7 linked regions of the Homo sapiens genome follow. The protein of the gene in region 2 interacts with the protein of the main gene of each other region in a biochemical or structural test. Each region holds a gene or a part of one and is shown on either strand. Other genes may lie near its edges.

The links.
Region 1: the proteins of PABPC1 (region 2) and PAN2 are reported together in a solved structure, tested with the Homo sapiens proteins (2 studies listed by BioGRID, with this or other methods).
Region 3: the proteins of PABPC1 (region 2) and UBR5 are reported together in a solved structure, tested with the Homo sapiens proteins (one study listed by BioGRID).
Region 4: the proteins of PABPC1 (region 2) and TNRC6A form a complex in vitro, tested with the Homo sapiens proteins (2 studies listed by BioGRID, with this or other methods).
Region 5: the proteins of PABPC1 (region 2) and ITCH form a complex in vitro, tested with the Homo sapiens proteins (one study listed by BioGRID).
Region 6: the proteins of PABPC1 (region 2) and TNRC6B form a complex in vitro, tested with the Homo sapiens proteins (one study listed by IntAct).
Region 7: the proteins of PABPC1 (region 2) and DDX3X form a complex in vitro, tested with the Homo sapiens proteins (one study listed by IntAct).

The regions. Positions count from the first base shown.
Region 1 is NC_000012.12:56,330,614-56,335,684, reverse strand, and holds the start of PAN2 (PAN2-PAN3 deadenylation complex catalytic subunit PAN2), read left to right. Parts: upstream 1-1,684; 5' UTR 1,685-1,823; intron 1,824-1,966; exon of another isoform or gene 1,967-2,198; intron 2,199-2,476; 5' UTR 2,477-2,590; coding exon 2,591-2,872; intron 2,873-5,071. UniProt on the Homo sapiens protein: Catalytic subunit of the poly(A)-nuclease (PAN) deadenylation complex, one of two cytoplasmic mRNA deadenylases involved in general and miRNA-mediated mRNA turnover.
Region 2 is NC_000008.11:100,711,722-100,716,030, forward strand, and holds part of PABPC1 (polyadenylate-binding protein 1), read right to left. Parts: intron 3,881-4,309; coding exon 3,741-3,880; intron 1,461-3,740; coding exon 1,366-1,460; intron 1,069-1,365; coding exon 931-1,068; intron 737-930; coding exon 641-736; intron 1-640. UniProt on the Homo sapiens protein: Binds the poly(A) tail of mRNA, including that of its own transcript, and regulates processes of mRNA metabolism such as pre-mRNA splicing and mRNA stability.
Region 3 is NC_000008.11:102,405,703-102,410,011, forward strand, and holds part of UBR5 (E3 ubiquitin-protein ligase UBR5), read right to left. Parts: intron 1-4,309. UniProt on the Homo sapiens protein: E3 ubiquitin-protein ligase involved in different protein quality control pathways in the cytoplasm and nucleus. Mainly acts as a ubiquitin chain elongator that extends pre-ubiquitinated substrates.
Region 4 is NC_000016.10:24,732,187-24,736,495, reverse strand, and holds part of TNRC6A (trinucleotide repeat-containing gene 6A protein), read right to left. Parts: intron 1-4,309.
Region 5 is NC_000020.11:34,369,144-34,373,452, reverse strand, and holds part of ITCH (E3 ubiquitin-protein ligase Itchy homolog), read right to left. Parts: intron 4,060-4,309; 5' UTR 3,983-4,059; intron 752-3,982; exon of another isoform or gene 727-751; intron 1-726. UniProt on the Homo sapiens protein: Acts as an Acts as an E3 ubiquitin-protein ligase which accepts ubiquitin from an E2 ubiquitin-conjugating enzyme in the form of a thioester and then directly transfers the ubiquitin to targeted substrates.
Region 6 is NC_000022.11:40,184,257-40,188,565, reverse strand, and holds part of TNRC6B (trinucleotide repeat-containing gene 6B protein), read right to left. Parts: intron 1-4,309.
Region 7 is NC_000023.11:41,347,468-41,351,583, reverse strand, and holds the end of DDX3X (ATP-dependent RNA helicase DDX3X), read right to left. Parts: intron 3,945-4,116; coding exon 3,865-3,944; 3' UTR 1,310-3,864; downstream 1-1,309. UniProt on the Homo sapiens protein: Multifunctional ATP-dependent RNA helicase. The ATPase activity can be stimulated by various ribo-and deoxynucleic acids indicative for a relaxed substrate specificity.

The sequences.
Region 1 (5,071 bases), on a different chromosome or scaffold from region 2:
GATCCTGTCTCAAAAAAAAAAAAAAAAAAAGGCTGGGCGCGGTGGCTCACACCTGTAATCCCAGAACTTTGGGAGGCCGAGGCAGGCAGATCACCATCTAATATTACTGTATTAGAAACAGTAATTACAGCTGAGCTAAATAATCTATGTCATGGATGCTCTTGTGTCTCCTCACAGTATCCTTTTTTCTTTTCTTTTTTTTTTTCTTTTTTTTGAGACGGAGTTTCGCTCTTACTGACCAGGCTGGAGTGCAATGGTGCCATCTCGGCTCACTGCAACCTCCGCCTCCCAGGTTCAAATGATTCTCCTGCCTCAGCCTCCCAAGTAGCTGGGATTACAGGCTCCCGTCACCAGGCCCGGCTAATTTTGTATTTTTAGTGGAGACGGGGTTTCTCCATATTGGTCAGGTTGGTCTCGAACTCCCGACCTCAGGTGATCCGCCCACCTCGGCCTCCCAAAGTGCTGGGATTACAGGCGTGAGCCACTGCGCCCGGCAGACATGGATTATTTAGCCCAGGTTATTAGGGATCTGTAACTCTCATGGGTCTGTTAAGTCTTTCTCAATTTGAGACCTCAAGATGGAGATTTCTTAAAGTGTAGGAACTGTCTATGTCTCTCAGCATCCACCTTTTTCGGAGATTCTATATCTAATGACCTGCGAAGTCAGATCAAATCAGTTTGAGAGACCATCTGTGTTTTTCTCTTGGTCTAGGCTCTAGGTAGGATCTCTGACTGGGTATAGGACCCCACCCCTCTGAGTCCTAGAAATTTAAATTCTTGGTTCCTTTAATGAAGGTCTATTTACCAGCCTTTATTGAGAGAAATGTTATAGAATTGAATCCTCCATGAGGAATGTCTCCCATCAGAGTCCCTTTATGTGGCCTTTAGAAACAGTAATAACAGCTGAGCTAAAGTGCTCTGAGACATCTCACAACCTAGACCCATTTCAAAGTAATTAGAGTTCACAGGACCCACGAATCCTTCAGAATAACAAGTCCCAATTTGCCATGCTCATCCCCCTCTGAGGGATAACGTCCAGCCAGCCTCAAGAGCTAGGGGAATTTGATAACCAGGGGCATCTTGTTACCCGGGAATGTTACCGGGGTCTCTGGGGAGGGAACAATCACGGATGGGAGTTTCAGATGGATGCCTGTAGAAGATGCAGCCACTTGGACTGTGTCAGGAGTCCGGCTCCCGCTTCCTTTTTTTTCTCTCCCATATCTGGAAATAATAGGAAATGCCAGCGAGTTTTGGGGGCAACAGGGTCAGAGGTGGCGGAGTGGCTCACTAGGGCACCGCAGGAAGAGGAGGTAGACTAAGCCCCGCTGGGAATACCCAACAGCGACTCCTAGTGCTTTGCCTTGTGTGTCCCTTATTTTAGAGTTCCTAAAGTTATAGAAAGCATAAAAGTTTGGTTTTCAAACCTAGACGTAATTTTGTTCAAGAAGACTAAAAACAGAGTTACTTTCTAACGCCACCCAACAAGTCCGGCGTCTGGCTGCGTTTGTCCCACCGGCGCCCCGTAACCTCTTTTTCCGGCGCGTGCGTCACACGCTCTCTCCTGGGGTCGCCGTACCTGGCTCCTTCTGATTGGCTTAGATGCGCCCGGAGCCCTTCTGATTGGCTAAAATATGCCCCGAGCCCTTCTTGATTGGAAGAAGCGCCTCGGACCCCGGTCCTTGGCGCCGTAGTGGTTAGGTTGAGCCCTAGGCGTGGGGGAGAACTGGGGAAACTGGAATTTCCCGCGGAGCTGACAGCGCTTGCGCTCCCCCTACTCGTTCTAATTCCACGCGCTCCAAAATATCCGCCATGGAGAAATCTTGGTAATGACCCATTCCCCGTAAGCATCCCAGGAACACATCTGACCCTTGCCCTATCCCCCTCCTCACCGCTGCCGTGGGAGAATTCTAGATAACCGATTTTTCTGGTTCCCCCAGAGAATTCTGGGTAACTAGCCGTTTCCGTCACCTTCCCCTGCCCCCGCCCCAATTGTGGGTAACTGGCCATTATTGTTTTCCTCTAGAGAATCCTGGGTAGCTATTGGAGAGGATTCTAGGAAACTGACTTCTCGTTCTCCCCACCGTCCAATCCACCCGTTTTCACCCCCAATTCTGGGAGAAAGCACCTTAAATCCCTCTACCTAACTCCAACCCCCGCAATTCTCGCTCCCTTCACCTGATGATTCAGGGCTGAACAAGGCAAGTGAGCAGTCCGAAGTGAGAAGAAAGGGAAGTCAAGGATTAGGTTAGATAATGGGGTGGTGGAGAGTACAGAGGGCCTAGCGGAGGAGGGATAGGGACAACAGTTCTACCACCTCCACCCCCACTGCCCATCCCTCCCCCGCCTGCTTCATCCTTTGGCTGGCAGTCTCATCCCTCATGCCTGCCTCATCTCCCTCCTGCCCCCATAACCTAGAAGACCCTAAGTACCAGTACCTGGGCCTACCCTTGACTCAGCTACCTCTTTCCCCTTACAGGCCAGGATGTCCATTCTAGGCCCATCGGTGCTGTCTTGCTGAAGGTTGGGTCAGGCATCTAAAGGGACTGTGGTAAGGGAGGGTGTGACACAGGTGTAAGCTGCCATCGTCATCATGAACTTTGAGGGTCTGGACCCTGGACTGGCAGAATATGCCCCAGCCATGCATTCTGCCCTGGACCCTGTCTTGGATGCCCACCTGAACCCAAGTCTGCTACAGAATGTGGAGCTGGACCCAGAGGGAGTGGCCTTGGAGGCTCTTCCCGTCCAGGAATCAGTGCACATAATGGAAGGTGTCTACTCTGAATTGCACAGCGTGGTGGCTGAAGTGGGTGTACCTGTTTCCGTCTCCCACTTTGACTTGCACGAGGAGATGCTGTGGGTGGGGAGCCACGGGGTAAGAACTGTACCCCTTTGTGAGGGTTGAAAGATGTTGAAGGTCTTTATCTGGTCTTAACCCAAGGAAGCTGCTTTGCAGATAGCCAGTACCGAGGAGTTGTAGTGATGAGACAGCTGGGTCTGGTTGGAGGGATAAAGGGAGAATCTAGGATCTAGGAGTAAATGACATATTCTTTCTCAGGAGGCATCCCTTTTTTTTTTTTTTTTTTTCGAGACAGGGTCTTGCTCTGTCGCCTAGGCCAGAGTGCAATGGCGTAATGTGATCATGGCTCACTGCAGCCTCAATCTCCTGGGCTCACACAATCCTCCCACTTTAGCATCTCAAGTAGCTGGGACTACAGGCATGCGCAACCAAGACCAGCTAATTTTTAAAAAATTTTTTAGTCTTACTATGTTGCCCAGGCTTGTCTCAAACTCCTGAGCTCAAATGGTCCTCCTGCATAGAGCTGCCAAAGTGCTGGGGTTACAGGTGTGAGCCACGGCACCTGGCCAGCATCCCACTTTTGTCACAATTGCCCATCCAGTGTTTTGATTTATCTTGATAGTTGTACCCATCACTTAGTCTGTAGCCATCCAAATCTAATCTCAATTGCTGTTGCCCCACCTGTGTTTTCTATTTTTATTATTATAGAATATTTAATGAATGATTCTGCATATCTTCCATTGAATCATTTTGTCTTCTCTGGCTGATTTTAATATCTCTCAGAGCAGTTATCAATCTTAATTTTTTAAAATCTGTACCCGTATTGCCAATATGCTATGGTGCCCAAAGACTTTGTAAGAAATACTGTGCTGTCCGGCCGGGACCGGTGGCTCACTCCTGTAATCCCAGCACTTTGGGAGGCTGAGGCAGGCGGATCACGAGGTCAGGAGATCGAGACCATCCTGGCTAACATGGTGAAACCCTGTCTCTACTAAAAATGCAAAAAATTAGCTGGGCATGGTGGCAGGCGCCTGTAGTCCCAGCTACTCGGAAGGCTGAGGCAGGAGAATCGCTTGAACCTGGGAGGCAGAGGTTGCAGTGAGCCGAGATCACGCCACTGCACTCCAGCCTGGGTGACAGAGCGAGACTCCGTCTCAAAAAAAAACAAAAAACAAAAAAAAAAAAAACGCTGTCCTTCATTTACTGATTGACTTCTTTGGTCATGAATTGTTTTTCCATTAGAAGGGATGAATTTTTGTGTGTGATTCATTCAGTTTAATAGGCAGTGTCTACTGCTATGCTAGGCACTGTGAATAAAGCTAAATAAAACATAATCCTTGCCCTCAAGGAGTTTACAGGACAGTGAGGTAAAAAACATATACAAAACCAGATAATTTCATGGTACTAAGCGCCAGTGTGAAAATCTGTACTGGATGCTGGACAGGATGGAGAATAGTCAGAAAGGGCATCGAGGAGGAAGTAACCCTTGAACTGAGTCTTGCAACATGAGTAGAAATCAGGTGAGAAAGATGGGAAAAGGCGTCTTAGCATAGGATAAACAAAGATTCCCAAGATACTACAAAGCTTGCTGAGTACAAAATTCAGGAACTACAAGCAATTAGGATTTACCGGACTGGAAGAGGTAGACATTTATTCATTCAACCAGTGTTTTTTTGAGCCACATGCTAGGTGTCAGACCTTGCCCTAAGGTCTAGGTTTGGAATAAGCAGTAAACAGAAAAACATTACAATACATCAGGTGTTGATTAGTACTGTTAAGAAAAATGCTGGCTGGGCATGGTGACTCACACCTGTAATCCCAGCACTTTGGGAGGCCGAAGCAGGCGGATCACCTGAGGTCAGGAATTCAAGACCAACCTGGCCAACATGGTGAAACCCCCGTCTCTACTGAAAATATAAAAATTAGCTGGGTGTGGTGGCAGGTTCCTATAATCCCAGCTACTTGGGAGGCTGAAGCAGGAGAATTGCTTGAACCTGGGAGGCAGAGGTTGCAGTGAGCTGAGATCACACCACTGCACTCCTGCCTGGGTGACAGGGCAAGACTCCGTCTCAAAAAAAAGAAAAAGAAAAATACAATGAGGCCAGGCACAGTGGCACCTGTAATCCCGGCACTTTGATAAGCCAAGGTGGGAGGGTTGCTTGAGCCTAAGAGTTCAATACCAGTCTGGGCAACATAGCAAGACCCCATCTCTATTAAAAGAAAAATACAGGCCGGGCGCGGTGGCTCACGCCTGTAATCCCAGCACTTTGGGAG
Region 2 (4,309 bases):
CTTGCCAGGAAAAGCTGACTAGAAAGATCAGCCACAGCGTCATTCCAGTTCAGTTGAGTTGTAATTTTTTTCTATGCACTCTTCCCCAACCCCAGCAAAATTATGTATGCACAAAACCTTGCATATAGGGGGACTCTTGGCCCACGGATGCTAGACAAAAACATCTAGAAGAGAACTTCTTAAATCAAGATTTCAGAATTTGTACTAGAATACTACTGCTTTGTTTCTTAATCTCTGATTTCAAATAAAAGAAAATATGATCTCTATTCTTACTGCTAGGGGGCAGGGGAGGGAACTGGGGCTTGACTACCCAGAATGAATTGTAGAAATGAATAAACAGATCAGAACTATAGTAACAATTATAAGTCCCTAATAAATTGCTTGCTTTAGCAAAATGACTAGTTGTTGGAATAGTGCATATCATGTGAGGATATCAGCCTTCCTTAGCAAAGAGTTCAGTGCTTGCCATTTTTAAGTTAACCATTAGGCTATGACAACCAGTTCAAATGTGAATTTAAGTTTTAGAAGTAACGAAGCAAACACCTCTCTAGTGGCTATAATAATACAAAATTTATATACATATATCTACATGTATGAATTTTTACTAGACCTCAAATAAATGAACCATATGTTTTCTTACCTTTGCACTAGTGATTGTACCAAATGGAGAAAACTCTTTCCGGAGACGTTCATCATCAATACCATCATCAAGATTTTTCACATAAAGATTAACACCCTAAAAAGAAGAAAAGAAAACTATAGAAAAAGAAAACCATGGTGGTACCTAAGTACATCGGGTCTATTATTTTACCCCATATTTCTTCTCCTATTCCCCTCTCAAACCCTCCAGCTACCTGGAAGTAACTGAAATCAACGTAAAATAGGTTTCCTCATCCCTGTCTTATTTTGGTTGTTCAATTAAAAATGAACCTGGTATCTGGTGATCCTATCTTGTTTCATCTGTTCAAATTTGCGCTTAAGTTCCGTCTGCCGTTCCACCTTTTTCTGAGCTCGACCAACATAAATTTGTTTTCCATTGAGCTCCTTTCCGTTCATCTCATCCACAGCCTTCCCCCCAAAAAAAAAGAAAAAAAAAAAATCACAAAACTTTCAACTTACAGTTCATTTCCTTAACAGTTAAGACAAATTTGTTAAGTCACAAAAGCTAAAGACAAACCCATCCCAAAATCTCAAGGTTTTGGGACAATATAGGTTACCAATTTATACTCTCAAACCTAATGCATAAAATGCAAATAACTGAAAATATAAGAACATGTCAAATAGCTATTAGTATGCACATAGACTTCAACACAAGAGCAACTCAACTTTGTACCCCCTTCTTCCTGCTGAATACAGACCACTTACTTTCTGTGCATCTTCATGCCTTTCAAAGCTTACAAATCCAAATCCTTTGGATTTTCCACTTTCATCAGTCATTACTTTCACACTTAAGGCAGGCCCTAAAAAATTTTTTTACATAAATCAAAGATATTCCATACAACATTCACGTTATACATTTCAAATTTCAACATACAAAGCCATGAAAAAAATTTCAAAGCTCCGTAACTTGACTCCTCCCTCCCAGCCTTCTATGCCCCAGGTAGGTATACTTTTCCATTGAAAGACCTTTTATTATTAAGAAGGTAAACACCTTCCCTCCCCTGAAGGATTCCTCCTTCCATTTAAGGAGGTACACTTTAAACGGCTGTAAAAAGTTTTATTCTCAGCTCTAGCACAAAAGAGTTGCATTTTTTACCCAATAATTTGATTTTTTCCCTTTTCTATAGAGACAGTATATCATTCCATTGCCCAGGCTGAAGTGTAGCAGCACAATGAATAAGCTCACTTTAACTCAACTCCTGGGCTCAAGTGATCCTCCTGCCTCAACTTACCAAGTATCTGGGACTACTGGCCCACATACCACCATGCCTGGCTAATTTATTTTTTGTAGAGATAGGGTCTTGCTATGTTGCCCGGGCTAGTCTAAAACTTGTGGCTTCAAGTATCTTCCCTCTTTGACCTCCCCAAGCGCTAGGGTTACAGGCATGAGCTATTGTGCTAAGACCAATTTGATTTTCTTTGTATCAATTAAGAAACAAGTATTTATTAAGCCTTGGCCTACCCGACTTTCAACAGGAGTGGAAGGAATACATAGTTGGACTCTTTGGTAAGACATAGGTAATACAGGAATTTGAAAGACAGGGAAAAAAAATTCTTTTTAAAGACACAGGTGAACTACCTGGAAGAGGAAGCATTTATTTCTGAAGACATGTTTTCCCCTAACTCCCTCTAAAGTAGGAGAGACAGGTAACTGAGGCGGGTGGTATCTCAGGCAAGTGGGGCAGAAAAGGTTAAAAATCACATTTGATTACAGAAATTTAGAAGATGTATGGGCCAAGGCAGATTTTCTTCTGAATGTGCCTCTCTCCTGAGGCCAAAGTCAAGAAAATATGACATATTCACATATTTGTGGTCAACTTATGCAGCATTACTCATACGGTAGGTAGTTAACATCAACTTTTACAAACAGCTTCTAATTATAAGACATTAAGAAGCATGACAGTTGAAATATATAAAAGGCAGTAGCTAAATTTGGGGGTTGAGATGTAAACATGATGTCACTTTCTATGTTTTATATCATCTATCTTTGTGCAAAATGGTACTTTTTTGCTCTAGTGGAGGGCTTGATGTGACATGCTAGCATGGCAGTAAGATATTAGATTTCCTGGCCAGGCACAGTGGCTCACACCTGTAATCCCAGCACTTTGGGAGGCCGAGGTGGCTGGATCACTTGAGGTCAGGAGTTGGAGACCAGCCTGGCCATCACGGTGAAACCCCGTCTCTAATAAAAATACAAAAATTAGCTGGGCATGGTGGCGCACACCTGTAATCCCAGCTACTCAAGGTAGAGATAGGAGAACTGCTTGAACCCGGGAGGCGGAGGCTACAATGAGCCGAGATCACGTGACTGCACTCCAGCCCGGGTGACAGAGCAAGAGTCAAAAAAAAAAGTATTAGATTTCCTAATTCTTTATTATTTGACATATTAAAAAAAGCAAGACACCTCTAAGTTCAACACAAAATGCAAAGGGTGGGGTCAAGCAAATCATCTGCACATGAACACTTAAAAGTTATTTTATCTGTTATACCCCTACCTAAACTAAGGCTGGTTTGTGCTTCATCAATTTCAAGTTTTATGAAGTTATTTTTAAATGCAGGAAATAAGTACTTTGAATCACTGGAAAATCTGAATTTTTGGTTTCATCGCTGAAAGTCATTGTTTTAAACTGCTCAAACATGATGTTACTTAGACTGACCAGCTTTATTGTTCTATGAGACTGCATTCCACTGTAGGCTGGCTGTGTCAAATATATGCTTCTGATGACATGGGATCTCTAATTACACACACACACACACACACACACACACACACACACATATATATCTCCAGCCTCTTAATGTAGTAAAATATTTTAAAATCTGTTCTAATTACTTAGTCATACCTTACTGTGCTAATCTAATGCTATTAACCTTTAACCTGGATAGAATTCTATTTATTTGCATTATACTACTTTGTAGTGTAATAGATGGCCAGCAGCTTAATTCAAATAACCACAAATATTTTAAAGTACCATGTAAGTCTAATTTTATTGACTTTTTTAGTATAAAGTAATAGCTAAAATTAACACTGAGCACTAATTCAGAGCTTTGTGTGTAAAAATTTAATTAAGACACATTACCAAACTTGCCAAAGAGATCCTTAAGGCGCTCATCATCCATGTCTTCTCCAAAATTCTTGATGTAAACATTGGTGAATTCTTTTGCCCTAGCTCCAAGTTCAGCTTCTCGTTCTTTACGAGACTTAAATCGTCCAACAAATCTAATAAGATATACAAGGACTATAACATTAGATTCTATTTTATAAAGTTCAGATTAAGTAAGCCTGATGGTTGGTTTTGTTACTGTTAATGAGAATATTCAGAATCCCTAATAAAAAGCACACTACAAAATAGAAATAGGGCCATAATTTAAGATATGACACCATGAAATATATGAATAAGCCTCTAACTACAATCACAAAAAAAAAACCACTTCTTTTAATACACACTTCTCTTCTCTAGCTAACCTAGGGTTAAAGGGATCACTCCCATCAATACAAATGAGTGGAAGTGCATGTGTACCATGCCAATAAAAAGACCTCTATCAAATTAAAAAGCTTTCATCGTCATTTTAAAGTGGCGCTTGCGCTTTCTTTGCCATCTCCTAGAATAAAAATTTAAACTTCCCAATCGTGTACTCTAACACACAA
Region 3 (4,309 bases), 1.7 Mb from region 2:
CAGCTACTCAGGAGGCTGAGGCAGCAGAATCGCTTGAACCCGGGAGGCGGAGGTTGCAGTGAGCCAAGATTGTGCCAAAATGGCACCACTGCATTCCAGCGTGGGCAAGAGCGAGACTCAAAAAACAAAATAAATATGTATGATAAAATGAGGGAGGGGAGACATTAAGTACATCCTCCTGTAACATAAAATTGCTTCCTTTAATATACCTTATAAGATCTACGTCCATGTAACTCAGTCTTCAGCAATTAAATTTTCCTTTGGAAACTATTTCCTAAATAACCTAATGGTCTAATTGTTAGGGGAAAAAACCCTGACCTTTCCTAATTTCACCTATTATTCCTAGTCGTATTCCTGTGTATCCTGTAATTTTCTTCACAAGTGTCTGTTTATTCCTAGGCCTATGATTCAGTCACAGATATCCTGATTTATAAAATTGCTCTGCCTTTGTTTTGATTTTCTATTTTGCTTGGCTATTCTACACCCTGCTGTTAATCTTACTTAAGCAAATTCATTTAAACATTTTAGTTAGGCCAGACTGTACTTTTCCAATACAATAAATCTAGTATTGGTTTTTTATTGTTTGTTTTTGGTTTTGTTTTTGTTTTTGAGATGGAGTCTCGCTCTGTCACCCAAGCTGGAGTGCAGTGGCGCAATCTTGGCTCACTGCAACCTCCACCTCCCAGGTTCAAGCAATTCTCCTGCCTCAGCCTCTTGAGTAGCTGCAACTACAGGCATGCACCACCATGCCCAGCTAATTTTTGTATTTTTAGTAGAGATGGGGTTTCACCATGTTGGCCAGGCTGGTCTCAAACTTCTGACCTCAGATGATCCGCCCACCTCAGCCTCCCAAAGTGCTGGGATTACAGGCATGAGCCACCGCACCTGGCATAATGCATTTAGTATTGCTTTTAGGTAACAATCTCAATAATCAAATGGTGAGATTTTTCACTGATTTGGTAATATGATGCTCCATCCCACACAACCTAATGTCTGGGGGGTTTTTTTATTGATTTTTTTGTTTTTTTGTTTTTTGGTGCACCACAATAAAATTTCAAGCAGCTTTCAACTATTATAACCTCTACTCACCACAACCTTTGTTATGCTTCATATAATCCCTGGCATATTTTCTGGCTCCTACTGAGTGAAGATATGCCTGAGTCTTTAAAACCTCAAAGTTCTTAATAAACATAATGAGCACTCACTGAATGCCAAGACTTGTGCAAAAACACACTTTCTATGCCAACACTATCCAAGAGAACTTTCAGTGATGATGGCACTGCTCTGTATTTGCACTGTCCAATGTGGTAGTGAGTAGCTACGTGGCACTACAGTGCACTTAAAATGTGACTAGCTACAGATGAAGTGACTTAAATTTTTATTTAATTTTAATCAATCTTAATTAATTTTTTTTTCCTTTTTTTTGAGACAGAGTCTTGCTCTGTCGCCCAGGCTGGAGTGCAGTGGCGCGATCTTGGCTCACTGCAACCTCTGCCTCACGGGCTCAAGCTCTGTCTCACAGGCACAAGCAATTCTCCTGCCTCAACCTCTTGAGTAGCTGGGATTACAGGCGTCCACCACCACACCCAGCTAATTTTTGTATTTTTAGTAGAGATGGGGTTTCACCATGTTGGCCAGGCTAAGGGGTCTCGAACTCCTGACCTCAAGTGATTCGCCCGCCTCAGCCACCCAAAGTGCTGGGATTACAGGCATGAGCCACTGGCCGGGCCTTAATCTTAATTTAAACAGTCATGTTTTAAAAATTAAGAATATATATTGCGGCCAGGTACATTGGCTCATGCCTGTAATCCCAGCATTTTGGTAGGCTGAGGCAGATGGATCACCTGAGGTTAGGTTCAAGAGCAGCCTAGCCAACATGACGAAACCCCATCTCTACTAAAAATACAAAAATTAGCCAGACATAGTGGTATGCGTCTGTAACTTGGGAGGCTGAGGAAGGAGAATCGCTTGAACCCAGGAGGTGGACGTTGCATTGAGCCGAGATCCGGCCACTGCCTCCAGCCTAGGAGACAAAGCAAAACTGTGTCTCAAAAAAGAAAAAAAAAAAGAACGTATATTGCTTGAAATATTCTTCATAAAAGTCATTTTCACTTATTTTTACAACCAAATGCATTGAAGATCATCTAGGATGGGCTTCCTTAACCTTAGCACAACTGACATTTTGGACCCCGTAATTCTTTGTTGTGGGGGCTATCCTATGCATTATAGGATGTTTAGCAGCATCTCTGGCCTCCATCCACTAGAGGCCAGTAGCAATGCCCCAGCTGTGACAATAAAAAATGTCTCCAGACACTGCCCAATAAGGGGAGGGGGTTGTGTGTGGAGGGTGCAAAATCACACCAAGCTGAGAAGTACTAATCTAGAACTAAGAGTCGATTCTGCTCTGAATGCTAAGGATATTCTAGGGCAACTCTTTTGAGTTCCTGCTTTGCTATCTGGAAACCAGGCAACACGTAAAAAGTTAAAAGTAACCATCTCTTCGTAATGTTTTCCGTAGAATCCACATTATAATATTGATCTTTTCCCATCTACTGTCTCAACTGTTCCTCCCTGACCTTGAGGAGAGTGCTACACCTAATTCAGAGATTGATGTGGGGGGTTCTAAGAGGTTAAATGACTAGGCTACCAGCGCAGAGTTTGAAACTCCTGTCTATAGTATCTTACCTTGTGTTATGACACCTGAAAGGGAAACTCTAAGCTTAGAGAAAAATCCTTTTGATATGACAATCTCAATAAAGACTGTTTATGACTGCACAATACGTTGTAATGCCAAAAGGCAAATCTCACAGGAAAATTCCACATACAGACAAGCAATAAGAACTGGTTTGTTTCGTAACTAACCTGCATCTTGAGGAATAATTCAGGACAAGGACAATAAATGCCATAACCACATCACCTTAAGAAGACCTATCCTAACCTAGTACCAAGAAAAGGTTAAGAGCGTCAGCCTCTGAAAAAAAGGCATAAACCCATTAGGAGCCCTGGAAAGAGCAGTTGAGGGGAAAACGGAATCAAAACACTAAGACAGGTGGCCACACTGCCTGAAGGCTGGGATGTCTGAGACAGCAGAACCATTCTGGAATACAAGCCACGTGAAGTGGAATGGAGCCCTGGACTTTAAAGAAAAGTCAGAAGACCCATCAGGTGGACCTCAGCTGTCTCTCAGTAGTTGTATCCCTGCATAAACACTGTAAATCTCTGTGCCTATTTTTTCAGCTCATTAGTGAGGCACTTTCCAGGCTATTAGTGAGGCAGGCCTTTCAGCTCTCCCCTCAAGCTCGACGAACCACATTCTTTATATTGTTTTACTGTTTCTCTGAGACAATGTTTTAAGCAGGAACGTAGTACTAACTCAAGAAATCCATTGGAAAGGAGATCAAAATGTCCAAAGTATCTGAGCACTGAATGGTTTCAATTCAGCTCAATGAATATTTGCTTGAGGGCCCAGCATTCTGTGCCAGGCACCTTGTAATCATTCTGGGAAGTCACAGCCAACATCCTCTTCTTTCCACCCCAGCCATCCCCACCTGTATTTGTCAATTTCATCCTGGCATCATTATTATTCATTATTGGCAAGTCTGAAAACACAAATTATGAAAAAAAGATACTTTTTTATGCTTTGTACATTTTAGACACTTGAGACATCAGACTATGATGCTGAACAAAATATTTGACTTTTTAAGAGGATGTGGGTAAAGAAAGAAAACGTATTTGAAGAAAACACTACTGTTTTGAGGACCAAGTTTTCTTCAGCTGAGCAATTTATTTGCAGTACCATTCTGCCTGTCTAATCTTACTACTTTTATTCCAAAGTATAAAGTCTATTTACACCCTTTTCATACATAACTATGATTATCATTTTATTTGTGACTCTCATACATTTCTCATAATAAAAAAAGTCAAGCTACAGTAGCAGTAGCTTTTTTATTGCCCCAACTTACTAAAACTTGGTAAAGTTTTTATCTTTAGATGAAAATACGCTTATTCTAGTTAATTAAAAGGTTCCAGAAAACCAGTCTCTTTTGGAAACAGATTTTTCTCAAGTGACAGGTTGATCCTATTACAAGTAGGTATGCAAAAAGGAGCCCTCCTTTTGAAAGGGAAACACAGAACAGCTCCTGCCACAAATCAGCTACTTCAAAACTTAGGATATGTGCCTATCTTAAATGCTGCCTTCACAAATCTCAAAAGGCAAGACATGTTTACCGCTACTAGATACAACCATATAGCTCTTTATAATTTCACCTACGGCACCTTTCTATTTTTCAAATATCTGCCACCTTGATGC
Region 4 (4,309 bases), on a different chromosome or scaffold from region 2:
GACACAACTAAATGCAACCCAGGATACAGCAATTGAGTGAAAGAACAAATACAACTTTAAAAAAAATTTTGAGAAAATTGGGAAAATCTGAATAGGGACCAGACAGAATTGTAAAGTTAAACTTCCTGTGGGTGATCATTTGATTGCTGTCAGGTAGAATGCCCTTATTCTGTGAGATACCTACTGCCATACTTTGGTGTGCAATGTCACGATAGAACAAATGTGGCAAAATATTAATAATCACTAAAACTAGGTAAAGAGATACAGGTATTAGTTGCAACATTTTTCCAATTTTGCTTAAGGTTAGAATGATTGATTATTTATTTGAGACAGAGTTTTGCTTTTGTGCCCAGGCTAGGCTGGAGTGCAATGGCGCAATTTCGGCTCACTGCAACCCTCGCCTCCCAGGTTCAAGCGATTCTCCTCCCTCACCCTCACAAGTAGCTGGGATTACAGGCATGTGCCACCACACCAGGCTAATTTTGGTATTTTTAGTAAAGATGGGGTTTCACCATGTTGGTCAGGCTGGTGTTGAACTCCTGACCTCCAGTGATCTGCCCACCTCGGCCTCCCAAAGTGCTGGGATTACAGGCATGAGCCACTGTGCCCGGCCAATTTTTTAAAATTTTAAAATGAGATAGGGATTTCTGTTTTTTCAGTGAGAGATTTATCATGCATCAGCCTGAACAGAATACATATAACGCATACCATTTTAGTCTTTCCAATCATGGGCAATACTTTTGCAGTTGTCATTAAAATTGTAAATATGTTTTGCAATTTATACTTTCAGACATTTCAGATGCCAAAAATCAAAAGAGCTTACAGAATGGTATTCTTTTGATGTTTATATTCAAATTTTCCACAGAGGGTTGTTACACATTTTTAAATTAAGTTTACAGATTGTGATTAATTTATCCTATCAAGTGATTTACCACCTAATTGCCAAATTAAGCTGGAAAAAAAGCATATTGGGTTGGTACATTAAAAATGAGCAAAAACCACAATTAACTTTCGCACCAACCTATAGCAATATGCATGTGTTGGCCTGCAAACCGTATCACAGCAAAGCAAAAGAAAAGCTTAACAAAATCAGATTTTCTTTCTTTTTTTTCAGACAAAGGTTGATGAATTGCATGAGTGGGATCCACCTTAGCTACGGAGACCTAATGCCTTGGGGTTTTACTCCTGCTGTCCTAGTCATTTCTTTTCTTTCTTTCGAAACAGAGTTTCACTCTGTTGCCCAGGCTGGAGCGCAGTGGCACAATCTCGGCTCACTGCAACCTCCACCTCCCAGGTTCAGATTCTCCTGCCTCAGCCTCCCAAGTAGCTGGGATTACAGGCACATGCCATCACACCCAGCTAATTTTTGTACTTTTAGTAGAGACGGGGTCTCACCATGTTGGCCAAGCTGGTCTTGAATTCCTGACCTCAAATGATCCACGTGCCTCAGTCTCCCAAAGTGCTGGGATTACCCGTGTGAGCCACTGCACCTGGCCAGTCCTAGTCATTTCTAATATAGCATTTGTCCCACGCAAAAGCATCTCAGATAAGTGTCCCAGTTTAGATGCAACATTATATGGTATATAGCACTTTTAACAACTTTTGTTATATGATGACATACAGTTGGTTTATGGGGGGACAAATCAGTATAACGTGAAGTTAACTTCTACTTTAAACAAAACACATTTAGTACATGATAGTAAAGTCATCACTAGAATGAACATAACATATTGAGATAACTGCTTTTACTCTTTTAGAATAAAAAAGGAGAAACCAAAATTATATTTTATCTATTGTGCAATATAAAATAAAATACTGCACATGGGAGGAATACTAGAATTAGAGTCAAAAGGCCTGTTTAAATCCCAGCTGGGTCACTTGACAGAGAATATAAACTTGCGTAAGTTACTGAATCTGTTTCAACCACAGCTTTCTCACTTGAGAAATGAAGAAGTCAGAATGCTGGCTGATCTCTATCTAAAGTCATAGTCCAGCTCTAAATATTCAATGATTCTATGATTCTGGCCTCCAAAATATTTTTTCAGACTAGACCAGCTGAGTTCTACTGGTCTAGACCAGTACTGGTAGATTTTTTTTTTACAACTGCAAAATGTAACTTAGCATCTTCTCTCCCCAAACTCCTATTTCTGCTCTGACTTGTTCTGTTCAGAGGTTGGGTCAAACTCTCATTCACCCATGATGAAGATTCCTATGTATTTTTGACTCCTCTGACACCTAATCAGCTGTCAAATCCCAGATTCTTAACTTCCTCAGTATCTTATACACTCATCTTTTTTTTCCTTTCTCTCTCTTTTTGCTTTGAGACAGGGTTGCACTCTGTTTCCCAGGCTGGAATGCAGTGGCACAAACTCAGCTCACTGAAGCCTCAAACTGCTGGGCTCAAGCAAACCTCCCACCTCAGCCTCCCAAGTAGCTGGGACTACAGGTGCACACCACCACACCCAGCTAATTTTTTAAAATTCTTTTGTAGAGGCAGAGTCTTATCATGTTGCACAGGCTGGTCTCAAACTCCTGGGCTCAATCCTCCTGCCTTGGCCTCCCAAAGTGCTGGGATTACAGGCGTTAGCCACTGGGTCCAGCCTCACTCACCTCTTTTTGCCACCACTTCAATTCAGGCCTCCATCGCTTCTTGCCTAGATCGCTAGTTTTCTCCCATAAATACACCTGGTTAGTAATCCCAGACCAGAAGATTATTCTATCACATCAGTACGCAACAAAAAGCATGCAATAGCTCCCATACCTAAAAATTTATGCACAAGTTCCTCAACCTGACATTCAAGAACCTCTATATCTGGCCTTAACCAGTTTGCTACAAATACCTTATATAACCTGAACTACCCACTGCAATATCAAAATCTCCTGTACTTTCTGGATTTTTGTGTCCTTACTTCTGTTGTTGTTCTTACAATGCCCTTTTATCTGCCTTTCAAAACTGATTCCATTCTTCAAAGTTCAGTTCTAATGGTAATCGCCCTCATGTAGATATTATGGCTCCCATGATACTAACATAATGTGACAATTTTAATGGCCAACTGTGAATTTTAAAAGACAGTTTACCTATGATAGTAAACTAAATTTATTATTTGTGCCAATGTTGTTTAACTGGCACTGGCTACCAGGCACACTGTCTTGAGGATTTGCAGCTTAGCAGAGGAAAAGGAGAATGGCAACACATCTTTGACATTCAGAAACCAGGGCTTCCAAATTGAGGATCTACATAATAGGGTCTAGGCTTCCATGTTATTAAAAGATTTTTTTTTCTTTTTTCAGACAGAGTTTCACTCTGTCAAGTAGGCTGGAGTGCAGTGGCACAATCTCGGCTCTCCGCTCCCAGGGTTCAAGTAATTCTCCTGACTCAGCCTCCCGGGTAGCTGGGAATACAGGCGCATGCCACCACGCCCAACTAATTTTTGTATTTTTAGTAAAAATGAGGTTTCACTATGTTGGCCAGGCTGGTCTCGAACTCCTGACCTCAAGCAATCCACCTGCCTTGGCCTCCCAAAGTGCTGGGATTATAGGTGTGAGCCACAGCACTCGACCAAAAGATGTTTAAATTAACTCAACATCTAAAAGTTTGGAGGCTTTCACGTTACAATTCCTAATGAAGATCTAGAGCAGTGGTTCTCAGCCAGGGTCGATTCTGCGCCACTCCCAGGGACATCTAGCAATATCTGGAAGCATTGGTGATTGTCACAACTGGACGGGGAGTGCTACTGCGGATGCTGAACATCCTGTGATGCACAGAACAACCCTCAAAATAATAAATTATCTGGTCCAAAATGTCAAGTGCCCAGATGAAAAAACTGATCTAGAAGTATTGCATGCATCTGTGGGTCCCGCCTACCAAAAGAAATTTTCAAATTTTGCAAGTTCGAAGCCTAAAAAGTTACTCCAATTACCAGTGATATGGTCTCCTCCAAGTTACTTAACCTCTTTATACATCAAATTCTCCATCTGTAAAACGGAGATAACAATACTACCTACCTCACAGGGTTTTTCAAGGATCAGATGAGTCCATGTAAAATCTTAGGAAAAGTGTGCCAGGCACATAGTAAGCAATCAATAAATTTAACTACTTACATTCTTCCCTGGCTTAGTGCCCAGTCCCACAGTTGAAATATCGAAAATGCTCAAAAAATGGTTACTCAATGAATACAATGCCTTGATTTCCTGGAGAGAGCACTATGGGTAAAGACAGATACATTCTTTTTTGTGAAAAAGGAAACACAGCTAGAGATGGAGATGAAGGAAGCATCTGCCCACCTAATCACCTCTCTCCTTCCTCAGA
Region 5 (4,309 bases), on a different chromosome or scaffold from region 2:
AATATAAAAATTAGCTGGCCATGGTGGCAGGGACCTGTAATCCCAGCTACCCAGGAGGCTGAGGCAGGAGAATGGCTTGAACCCAGGAAACGGAGGTTGCAGTGAGCCAAGATTACACCACTGCACTCCAGCCTGGGCGAGAACAAGACTCTGCCTCAAAAAAAAAAAAAAAATACATTTGGCCAGGTGCAGTGGCTTATGCCTGTAATCCAGAACTTTGGGAGGTCGAGGCAGGTGGATTATTTGAGGTCAGGAGTTCAAGATCAGCCTCACCAACACAGTGAAACCCTATCTCTAGTAAAAATACAAAATTAGCTGGGCGTGGTGGCACATGCCTATAATCCCAGCTACTTGGGAGACTCAGGCAGGAGAATCGCTTGAACCCAGTGGGTGGAGGCTGCAGTAAGCTGAGATTGCACCATTGCACTCCAGCCTCGGCAACAAGAGAAAAACTCCGTCTCAAAAAAAAAAAAAAAAGGAATACATTCAATCATGTTAAAGGAACCAAAAAATCTGAACTTAATTTCTTAAATTGCAATGCAATGAAACTCTTGTAACATTTACCAACTTCCTTTTTATAATAATCAATCACTGGCAAGGAAGTCTGTTTTCCTGACAAAATCCTTAAACCAGGAGTTTTATATTTGAGTACCCCTTGGAACCTAGCACAATAGCAGCTCAACAGATCCTTGTCAAATATTACAAACTTAAACTTTCTATACTTACGTTTCCTACAGGTCTCTCAGTGCCAATGTTTAAAGTAGAACTTAAAAGGCCGGGTACGGTGGCTCATGCCTGTAATCCCAGCACATTGAGAGGCTGAGGCAGGCAGATCACGAGGTCAGGAGATCGAGACCATCCTGGCTAGCACGGTGAAACCCCATCTCTACTAAAAATACAAAAAATTAGCCAGGCATGGTGGCGGGTGCCTGTAATCCCAGCTACTCAGGAGGCTGAGGCAGGAGAATTGCTTGAACCCGAGAGGCGGAGGTTGCAGTGAGCTGAGATTGCGCCACTGCACTCCAGCCTGGGTGACAGAGTTAGATTCCCTCTCAAAAAAAAAAAAAAGTAGAACTTAAAATAACATGGTTTCTCATTTATAAAGCATCAGACATTATGAAGCCTTTTTTTTTTTTTTTTGAGACAAAGTATCCCTCTGTCACTCTGTCGCCCAGGCTGGAGTGCAGTGGCGTGAACTCGGCTCACTGCAAGCTCCGCCTCCCAGGTTCACACCATTCTCCTGCCTCAGCCTCCCGAGTAGCTGGGACTACAGGCGCCCGCCACCACGCCCAGCTAATTTTTGTATTTTTAGTAGAGACGGGGTTTCACCATGTTAGTCAGGATGGTCTCGATCTTCTGACCTCGTGATCCGCCCGCCTCAGCCTCCCAAAGTGCTAGGATTACAGGGATGAGCCACCGCGGCCGGCCGAAGCCTTATTATAAGATATTTCTGATATCAGTCATATATTGTGATGTCAACAAAGCCATGAAAAATCAGTGAGTTAGCACATAAAGCACAGAATATAATAGAGTGAGCTGGAAAGAACCTGAGAAATCATATTCAAAACATTCAATAGATAAGTGAGGAAACCAGGCCCAGGGAGATTTAAGTGAGCTGCCCAAGATCACAGAATTTAAGTGACCAGTAATACCAATGGTAGAACGCAGGTTTCCTGAATGTTGGCTCAAATACCTTTCCACAAAGAACTGCTTTGTGAGCTTGAGATGAAATGGATATGCTGAGAAATATTTTAAAGATATTTTAAATACTTTAATAATACTTTTAAATATTTTTTAAATTGCTTTATAGTAGCTATCACAAATCATTCCACCATCTCCTTCCTTTCTCTTGATTATAAAAAAGAACAGGACCGGGCTCAGTGGCTCACGCCTATAATCCCAGCACTTTGGGAGGCAGAGGCGGGCAGATCACCTGAGGTCAGGAGTTCAAGAGCAGCCTGGCCAATGTGGTGAAACCCCGTCTCTACTGAAAATACAAAATTAGCCAGGTGTGGTGGGTGCACGCCTGGCCTCCCGAGTCCCAGCTACTCAGGAGGCTGAGACAAGAGAATCACTTGAACCCAGGGGGCAGAAGCTGCAGTGAGCCAAGATCGTGCCATTGCACTCTAGCCTGGGGAAGGCTCCATCTCAAAAAAAAAAAAAAAAAAAAAAAGAAGAAGTGATTTTATTTCCTTTGGATATATACCCAAAAGTGGCAATGCTGGATCATATTTTAGTTCTATTTTACCAGTATCTTCCTATTCAGTTTTTTTTTTTTTTTTTTTGAGACGGAGTCTGGCTCTGTTGCCCAGGCTGGAGTGCAGTGGTGTGATCTCGGCTCACTGCAAGCTCTGCCTCCCAGGTTCACACCATTCTCCTGCCTCAGCCTCCTGAGTAGCTGGGACTACAGGCGCCCGCCACCACACCCGGCTAATTTTTTGTACTTTTAGTAGAGACGGGGTTTCACCTTGTTAGCCAGGATGGTCTCGATCTCCTGACCTCGTGATCCACCCGCCTCGGCCTCCCAAAGTGCTGGAATTACAGGCGTGAGCCACCGCGCCCAGCCTCAGCTTTCTTATCTAACAATTCACCTGCTCAACTTCATTCACTCCCTATTCTCTTACTGCTTAACTTTATGTTCTACTTTTTTTTTCTTACCCAGTAGTCTTCCTTCTCTCCTGACCTTTTAAAGTGATCTGTCTTGTCCTCATGTTTTCCTTCACAATACTACTCTCAACTTCTCTCACCTTGTGGATCTAGATAACATTTCTTTTCTTTTTTTTTTTTTTGAGACAGACTCTCACTCTGTTGCCCAGGCTGGAGTATAGTGGCACGATCTTGGCTTACTGCAGTGTCCACCTCCTGGGTTCAAATGATTCTCCTGCCTCAGCCACCCAAGTAACTGGGAATACAGGCACATGACATCACACCCTGCTAATTTTTGTATTCTTAGTAGAGATGGAGTTTCACCATGTTGACCAGACTGGTTTCAAACTCCTGACCTCAAGTGATCCGCCCACCTTGGCCTCCCAAACAAAGTGCTGGGATTACAGGTATGAGCCACCGTGCCTGGCCAAGATAACATTTTAAGTCATGAATTCATTTCCTTTTCTAAAGATTTAATAGGTATTATTTTATTTGATCCACACAACAATGCCAGGGATGGAGACAGGAATCAATACTTACCTATTTTACAGATGTATAAACTGAGGTCTGGCAAGATTAAATAACTCGCCGAAAGTCACACAGCTTGTCAGTGGCAAAATCAAATCGGAACCCAGATCTTTTCTTTCCAAGTCCTCTATTCTTTCTGCACTGAACCATGTTGTCTTTTTTTTTTTTTTTTTCCGAGACAGGGTCTCACTCTGTCACCCAGGCTGGAGTGCAGTGGCGTGATCATGGCTTACTGCAGCCTCAACCTCCTGGCTCAAGTGATCCTCCCATGTCACCCTCCCAATCAGCTAGGATTACAGGTACACGCCACCACACCAGCTGATTTTTTTTTATTTTGTGTGGAGTCAGGGTCTCGCCATGTTGTCCAGGCTGGTCCCAAACTCTTGGGTTCAAGTGATCCTCCCACCTTCGCCCCACAAAGTGCTGGAATTACAGGCATGAGCCACTGCACCTGGCCATGTTGTCTTCTTTTTCATTACCCACCTCTTAATCCTACACATGCACATGTCTAGATAGTATACAGAGATAAACGTGTATAAAACAACACAAATAGAAAAAGTATGCATATGTATAAGGGATCTACAAAAACAGAAAAGTCAGAAAACCCAAATTAAGAGCACAGTGTGGCTCACAGGCTAATCCCTGCAGAGGCAGCTTTGGGTTTCAGAACCAAGTGAAGCTGCCTATATGTTCAACCAACTGATGCAGCTAGCATCAACACTGCTCTCTCCTCACAGCAGGTATAAGACCAGAGCTTGGCCTCTGCATCACTCTTGCCCCCAATTTCTCTCACAGGATGACACCATACCTGAAGTTCTCACAGTTTGAGTCACTTCCTTGGGTTAAGGCGTTGTCTCCACAAGGCCACCGTGAAATGCATGGTACCTGAGAAAGGAAGGAGAGTCCATTAACACATTACTTCTATATTTTTTTGTTTGTTTGTTTTTGAGATGGAGTCTTGCTCTGTCGCCAGGCTAGAGTGCAGTGGCATGATATTGGCTCACTCCAACCTTCGCCTCCTGGGTTCAAGCGATTCTTCTGCCTCAGCCTCCTGAGTAGCTGGGACTACACTACGGGCGTGCACCCCCACGCCTGGCTAACTTTCGTATTTTTAGTAGAGATGGGGTTTCACCAT
Region 6 (4,309 bases), on a different chromosome or scaffold from region 2:
GGAGCACACGCGATCACCTGCTAGGTCTCTGACCTTACTAAGGCATTAAAGGGCATTATTTCTGCTCACCACTATACAGTCTGGTTTTTATAAAAGCATAAATGAATAACCAAAATGCACTTCTAAAGAAAAACAAAAATGTAAGAAGTCATACTGATTAAACAAACAAAAAACAAGACTGAATAGCTGATATCCCAAACTCTGACAGGGCACTTCACAGAAAAATAAGCTTCTCTATGTCAACTGAAATGAAATCATGTAGTAACCAAAAACCAGCACTTACTCTCTCCAGTGTGAACAAGGTTTGATTCCAAGCAGGATTCAAGATCATTTCTTTATTTTGTTTTATTTTTTTTTGAGACACAGTGTTGCTCTGTCGCCCAGGCTGGAGTGCAATGGTGTGATCTCAGCTCACTGCAACCTCCGCCTCCCAGGTTCAAGCGATTCTCTTACCTCAGTCTCCCAAGTGGCTGGGATTACAGGCGCCCAGCTAATTTTTTGTATTTTTAGTAGAGACGAGGTTTCACCATGTTGGCCAGGCTGGTCTCAAACTCCTGACCTCAGGTGATCCACCCGCCTCAGCCTCCCAAAGTGCTGGGACTACAGGCGTGAGCCACCGTACCCGGCCAGATTCAAGATCCTTTCTATCTTTACTGGTTATCACTTAGATGGTCTAGTTAACAGCTGCAAAGCAGTCTCAATCAATGAGATAATTAAATGAAAATCTTTGAACCTGCTTTTTATAAACTGAAAAAACCCACCCATATTTAGTAAATATGCGTTCAATTGGCCCAGGTCGGCAAAAAGTACACAATGACTAAACGGGGCTAAACGGAGAAAAGTGAGATAAGAAAAGTGAGAGACAAGCACAACATAATTAGCCTGGTGGCACCCTCTCCCACCTCACACCTCCACCACACAGGGACGCTGGGACACTGACTTAAAGCAATCCTAACTTCATCCCCCCACCTGAAGCCACCACCTCACTGACTCCAGGGAGTGCAAAAGAAACTCACAAACAGTAACAGGAACGCTCCCACCCCTCCTGCTGGATCTGTTTTTAAGTGTAAGCCTCTGCACCAAGCATTTCAGAAACATGGCACAAACCGGTATGTTTAGGAACTTCTACCAATGTACCATTCTGCTGACTGTAGCCCAAACACTATTTCAAATTTTGGAATCTGTGTATTTTCATAAAAAGTTTGTCTCCTCACATTCAAAATTAGAGATTTGACCCTTCTAAATTCTAAAAATTCCACTAGGATAAGCCAACATGTATTCTAAGAAACACTAATCCTGTGAAATGCTTTGCGATGGTGCTAAACCATTTTGGGTATTTTCAGAGTGCACATCCGCTGTACAGTAGCCTATTTTACTTCGCATAACCCTCCCTGTGCTGTCCAACAGAGTAGCCGCACGTGGCTACTGTGCACTTGCAATGAGACTAGTGCCACTCAAACTGAATTTTTAACTGTATTTTAATTAATTTAAATTTAAAAACTGACATTTCCATTGCTGGAAAACTTTTTTATGTTTGGAAAAACGTGGGTATGTGAACCTACTTTTCCATGAAAAAGTAGTAAGTTTTATGAAATCTAAAAGCAAATCAAGTATTTCCAATGAAAATTTTATGTTTGAACTGAAATGTGTTGTAAGCCTAAGATACACACCAGGTTTCAAAGTCTTGGTACAAAAAAAACGTAAAATGTTGCGTTAACATTTTAAAATCAATAATATGTTGAATTAACAATATTTTACATAAATAAAGTCGATATTACTGAAATTAATTTCACTTATTTCTTTTTATTTTTAACTTTTTTTTTTTTTTGAGATGGAGTCTTGTTCTGTCACCCAGGCTGGAGTTCAGTGGCGTGATCTCGGCTCACTGCAACCTCAGCCTCCCAGGTTCAAGCAATTCTCCTGCATCAGCCTCCCAAGTAGTTGGGATTACAGGCATCCGCCACCACGCCCGGCTAATTTTTGTATTTTTAGTAGAGACGGGGTTTCACCATGTTGGCCAGGATGGTCTCGATCTCCTGACCTTGTGATCCGCTCACCTCGGCCTCCCAAAGTGCTGGGATTACAGGTGTGAGCCACCGTGCCTGGACTGTTTACTTTTTTAATGTGACTCCTGGAAAATTTAAAATAACACACGTGGCTTGCATTCTGTTCCTACTGGGCGGTGCTGGCGCCATCGAATGATTCCCATACCAACACTGGAACACCTCCCAACACCAGGTTCGGGAATGTTGCCATAACCAAATACTTTTCTTCCTGTGCAGCATTTGAACTGCTGCCCACACCTGTGATCGAACAGTTCTTCCCTCATCTTCTGTGATGAGGAATGACTGTCCTTCAGAGCCACCGTTCTTTTTATCCTTTCCCAGGTCCTCTTTCTCTTCCCGTCCCCAAGGTCTCATTCTCAGTTCTTTTTTCTATTCTTTACAGTCCCATGGTGACCTCATCCTCTCCCTTACCTTCGACTATCACTTCCACGTGGAAGCCTTCCAAGTCTTTATCTCCACTTCTGACCTCTTTCTCAAGCTGCAGATCCACACTGCCAGCTGCCTGCTAACCAGTTCCATTGCCAAGTCCCACCAAATTCTCCAATTCAGTAAGTCTGACCTGGAATGCGTCATCTTCCTTTTGGTTGAAGATTCCCATCATTCACCTTAAAAACCTGGTCCCTAGTTGCATGGCCATAGCCTTATAGCAGGACCTTTCATAACAGTCCTTTTATCCCCTAATTGGCCTGCCTGTCTCTCAATTCTTCCTTTAATCAGTGCCCCCCCACCAAGTCCTCCTCTGCACCACTGCCATATCAAAATTCTCACTGCACTGCCATCAAATTTTCAACAGGTCCCCACCGTCTACCATAGCAATACAAACTACTCAGCAGGCACTCAGCTCCTGTACACGTGTGCAACCTCCCCTCAATCCTCCCTGGACACACCTAGTCCTCCTCCACCTTACTCTAGCTAATACAGCCTGCCATGAGTCTACTCACCACCATTCTGCCCAATCTGTAGGGTTCCACTCAAATACAAAGTCCTCAACAAAGCTTTCTCTGATCAACACAGTTAAAATCAGTGTCTCTCCTCCCTCAAACTCCTTTGGTACTTCTAATAATCATTATGGTAATGAGAGTATATGGCCTTATCTTTATAAAATAGTACAGTATTCCCTTAATAGCACTGAACAGCACCTTGCACTGCATAGTACAGGTATGCCATCTTTGGACACCTTACCAAAGAAATCAACTTAAAAAGGAAAATCTTGCCAGGTGTGGTGGCTCACACCTGTAATCCCAGCACTTTGGGAGGCCGAGGTGGGTGGATCACAAGGTAAAGAGAACAAGACCATTTTGGCCAACATGGTGAAACCTCGTCTCTACTAAAAATACAAAAATTAGCTGGCCGTGGTGGCACATGCCTGTAATCCCAGCTACTCGGGAGGCTGAGACAGGAGAATCGCTTGAACCCGGGAGGCAGAGGTTTCAGTGAGCCAAGATTGTGCCACTGCACTCCAGCCTGGCGAGCAAGACTCCGTCTCAAAAAGAACAAAAAAAAATTTGGTAAATTTGGAACTACTGGTAACTCTTAAGTCTTTATCTCCAGACCGGACCTGTAATTACTCCAGCCTTTCACCTGGATATCTCAGGATTCAATGATTCCAAAACTGAACTCATAATCTCAACCCCACACCTGTGCCTCATCTAAATGCACCCTAACTCAACGAATGGTGGCACCATTCCCACAAGAAGCCAGGCAGAGACACAGGTGTTATTTTACATTTCTCCAACCCCATCTTCTCATACCCAATGACCAACTCCTCCAAAATCTTCCTAAATGCCTCTGGAACTCATTCATTTGTCCCCAACTCTGTTGTCAGTTCAGGCCACTATGACCTGAGATTACTACAGTATCATCTGGTCTGACGTGCAATGTCCCAGCCAGTTTCCACAACACACCAGAATCGTCTTTCAAAAATCCAATCTGAACAAGTGACTTTCCCACTTAAAACCCTTCAACTGTTCTCAGGAAAAAGACTTTCAAACGTGGCTTATACACTCTTCTGCATCTGGTCAAGGCTTAGTTTTTCAGCTTACCTCTCATTTCTCAGATTATTTCTTCCCTTAAGCACACGACACTCCAACCATGTCAAAGTACTCTCTATGCTGTTCCCCAAATATGCCAATGTCCACTAGTGCCCCGTGGTCTTTGCAGAAGCTGTTATCTCTCTAGGTGTCCACCCTTTTTAACCCCCCAACACCCTGAGCACCAGCCAGCCCCTTGCATCTATTCTCTAA
Region 7 (4,116 bases), on a different chromosome or scaffold from region 2:
TGTACCTACAATAAGTAGGTATCTCTGCATTGTGGGAGTAGTGAGGCCCTATCAACAAAGTCACTGTGCTCTAAAGAGCAAGCCTGTGGCCACTCAAGCAGGTCACGTAGAGCATAGGAGCAAAGGAAACATTTTAAGCATGAAGGTTAGACACAGCTCCTATAAAGCCATTTTAAAAATCTTGAAATTCAGCCAAGAATCCAGGAAACACATCAACAGTGCCCAAGAGTGACAACTGCATTTAAGTGTAATTAAAATTAAACCACATTAATGTAGTATGTAAACATACTAAATTTATGTCACCATAATCCTAACCATGCTAGACTAGAAATAACCTCAAATTTTGGCAGTTCCTCCAGAGCAGATTGTCATGTTCACTCATCATTCACATAAAGTGGAAACTGAACTCTCCTTAGCATCGTTTCACTCCATGAGTCACTTTCAGCCATTGACTATCCAATCTAGCAATCCCAAACCTTTCCATGCTTATTTTGACTAAATCGAGACTCAAGTACCATCATCTTTTCTATCTTCAAAATACATATGGCCATGTGTCAAAATTCTGCCCTAAAAACTTATGCTTATTTTGAGTTCATGACTGGAAAGATTATCCAGAACCATACTTCCTTACAATGCAAAAAATTCTTAATCATACTGCAAACCTTCAACTTACTGAAACAAAAGCTGAATACGTATTTGTTAGATTGAAACGTATCAAACCGCTAGTATGGCTCAATCTAACCAAGCACCTATACACTTGTGGTAGCAGCCTATTGCAGCAGTGTGTACAGTAAGCATAGATGTCTTATTACCTGTTTTCAGAGATAAGGTCTTGCTATACGTTGCCCAGGCTGGACTTGAACTCGTGGGCTCAAGCAATCTTCCTGCCCCTCAGCTTCCAAGTAAACTAGCACTATAGGACTATGTAATCATCACACCTGGCCCAAATAGTCTTGATTCCTTCCCTAAGTATATACTTACCATCACTTGTTGGACTACTGACACACTTGACTTTTATCCTGCTCATTCTTCCACTGTTCAACCATCCTTCATAATAGATACTTCAAAGAACAAAGAGACTCCCACCCATGTCAAATTGTTCAAAGTATAAGCCAATTTCTAATACATGCTGTATTATCAGTAAGGGCCTTTTAGATTTCCGTCTATTACAAAAATCCTGTTTCACTGTATTTCAAACTAATACTATCTTCATCTTTCATTGCAAATACTTATGGTATGAGTCATTCTGTATCCAAGAGGCATCTCAAAAAATAGCACTGGATGACAAGCAAAAAATAACATTTTACAATTTTTCAGGCAAGAGCACTTTATTTACACCTCTGAAAATAAACCACAATTGACAACAACAAAGGAGACTGTGCAGTTCAACTTTTTATTTTAATAAAATCAGAATATGCACAGCACATGCAGTGCTAGCATCTAAACTAATACAATAAGCAATTACTAAAGCTACAGTGACTTGAGGTTCAATCTTTACATTCAGCAAGTTTAAATCCTTACATGATTTTTGAAACCTTATTAACTGAAAATATTGCTTGCTGATAAAACTTGCTCAAATGCTATTGCTGAATGTACAAGTCACTGATTATGCCAATACAACAAAGATAACCACATGTTTGAGGATTGCAATGTGCCAGACATTCACTGAAAAAAAAAAAAAAACACACAACTAAACAAAATCCACACAACAAACATCTGAGAATCTGGACACTTCACATCAGTGTTTTGAAGTGTTTCATTAATATCTTAAGACAAGTGTATCAAAACCTTGGCATGATTTAATTTCAAGTCGCCAATTTTGTTTTTACTAACATCAGAAAGTTATGGCTACACTGCCAACGCCGGGTCTGCTTAATTTGACTTAAGAGTTTAATATGACTTAAACATTAAAAGCTCACACTACCCCGAAATATATAATTTCACGCATACGGTGACATTCAACATTCAAGTGCCAGTGTTTTTGTACTGTCTTTTGGTCAAGTTTCTTTAAACTTTCAAAGAATCACTTTTAGGCTTACAAAAATAAATATTTGTCAAAATGTTCAATAAATATTACATAAAACTAGCAGCAAAAAGTATCTAGAAATCTGTCGTGTGCAAATAGTTTTCTTCCCAACTATCATTCCCATGGTCCCAAATAAATTTTAGAATCTAGTCCCATCCCCTTCCTAGACAAGCTGCGTTCAACAATCTCCAAGAGACAAAGTAAGATTGGAAGTTTAAGGACACGCACACAAGACATATATATAAAATTCTCTGAATGTGCAATAAAAGAAGTACTTTGTAAAAAGTTATGGGCAAAATGTACAAGGGCCTAAACCTAGACTAATTGAAATAGCACCATAACAAATGACCTCAATACTGTCAAGTGCACCTACTTAATAAAAGTTTTAGAACAAGGCACAATACACTTGAAAATCTATTGCACTTTAGGAAATTTTTGCCGTCTTCCTATGCCACTGTAAAAAGATGGAGCGTTTTGATCACCGCATTCTGGCCACAAAATTAGCACAGAATTCAAAGTGGCAGAGGCATTTTAGTGGTGGACAATGCTCATCTTTGGCCAGATTTAGCATAAACAGACTATAAATACAATGGAAACCTATGCAACTAAAACTGACTAAAACTGCACTGTAGAGCAGAATTGACACCTTGTGCAGTTATGTACATATTTCCAACCTGTGTGATCTCAAAGATTTCAGTTTGTTACTCTTCTGGAGCCATTTTTACGAAGTCTATAGTAAGCCAGTTTAACATCTCAACGCAGCTTGAACAGAGTAATGTGAATCGGCATTTAAAATAAAGCCTGCTGCATTTAATTCTTCCTGTTCATACCCTCTTGACCAAAAAACATCAACACTAGCATGCGTTATTAGACCAAAAATCATCCAGGGCCCTAATGAGGGCTGGTCATTGCTGTGGTCAGCCATTCTACCATTTCAATTTCATTTATGGCAGGCATTTAAAAAGTCTAAGTAGATGAATTCTCCTAAAAACCTATTTCAAGTTATCAGACCTTTAAACTTTCCCTGTAATAGTATGCCCACATTTGGCTAGCTCATAATTAATGATCTGCCTAAACGTTGAAAGAGGAATTGCTGTATTTACTTGCATTAACTTTGAAAACAGTGCTTTGAATGTATGCATGTATTCATACATCACCTCATCATGACTGGAATGGCTTAAAGACTATCAGGTTCTAAATACCTATCCAGGATAGAGTGAGCAAATCAGAACTTTAACTTAATACAGTTTGCCACATTAGAAACTAATTCCATTAATATGCTTCAAGACATTTGTTGTTTTCCCCCAATCTGCAAGTATCAAAAAGCCCTAATGCAGGCTACCGCATAAGTTTTTCCTTATATTATTTATGGATGAATCGATGATTCCTGTTAAGTTGTATCACACCTGTGTGCCAAGGTTTGATTTTAGCCCAAGTTCAGTAAATTTATTTTGTCAAAACAATTGATATCTTGAGCATTACTGAGCCAACAGGACATCAAAATAAAAAGTTGTCTAAAGTTAAAGGCACAGTACATTAACAAACAAATGATCCTCAGTCACAAAATTATAAATGCAGTTTGGGATGGGGGTAGGCGGGAGGGGAGTTAATCCAAACTACAGCAATGAAGTCTTCAAACCACCTTCTGAACAGGGCTGCTGATTGTTCCTTTCATTTCTTCTTGTGACCTTGAGCTCCCTTAAAAAAAAAATTTCAGTGGAGAATCACAGCTGGTAATGTACTGCGAGTTCTTGAAGCTACACAAGGTATAGTCTGGCTAAGTTACATGTGGTTTCCATATTAGCTTGTTTGGCAGGGTGACCTACTGCAAAGCAGGCTCAGTTACCCCACCAGTCAACCCCCTGGGAGTTATAATTTCCTCCATATCCATCACTGTTGTAAAAGCCTCCATAGCCACCTAATGAGAGATTTAAAAAGAGAGAGAAATTAATGAAGTTATCCATCATTAAATACAATCCTTCCCTTACGTAATTTGCCATCAAGTTTCTATAGTGCTGAACTTAAATTGTTTAATTAGGCTTTGAAAAAGATGACTAAAAGGAAAAAAACCCTTCCCAAAGCTATGAAGT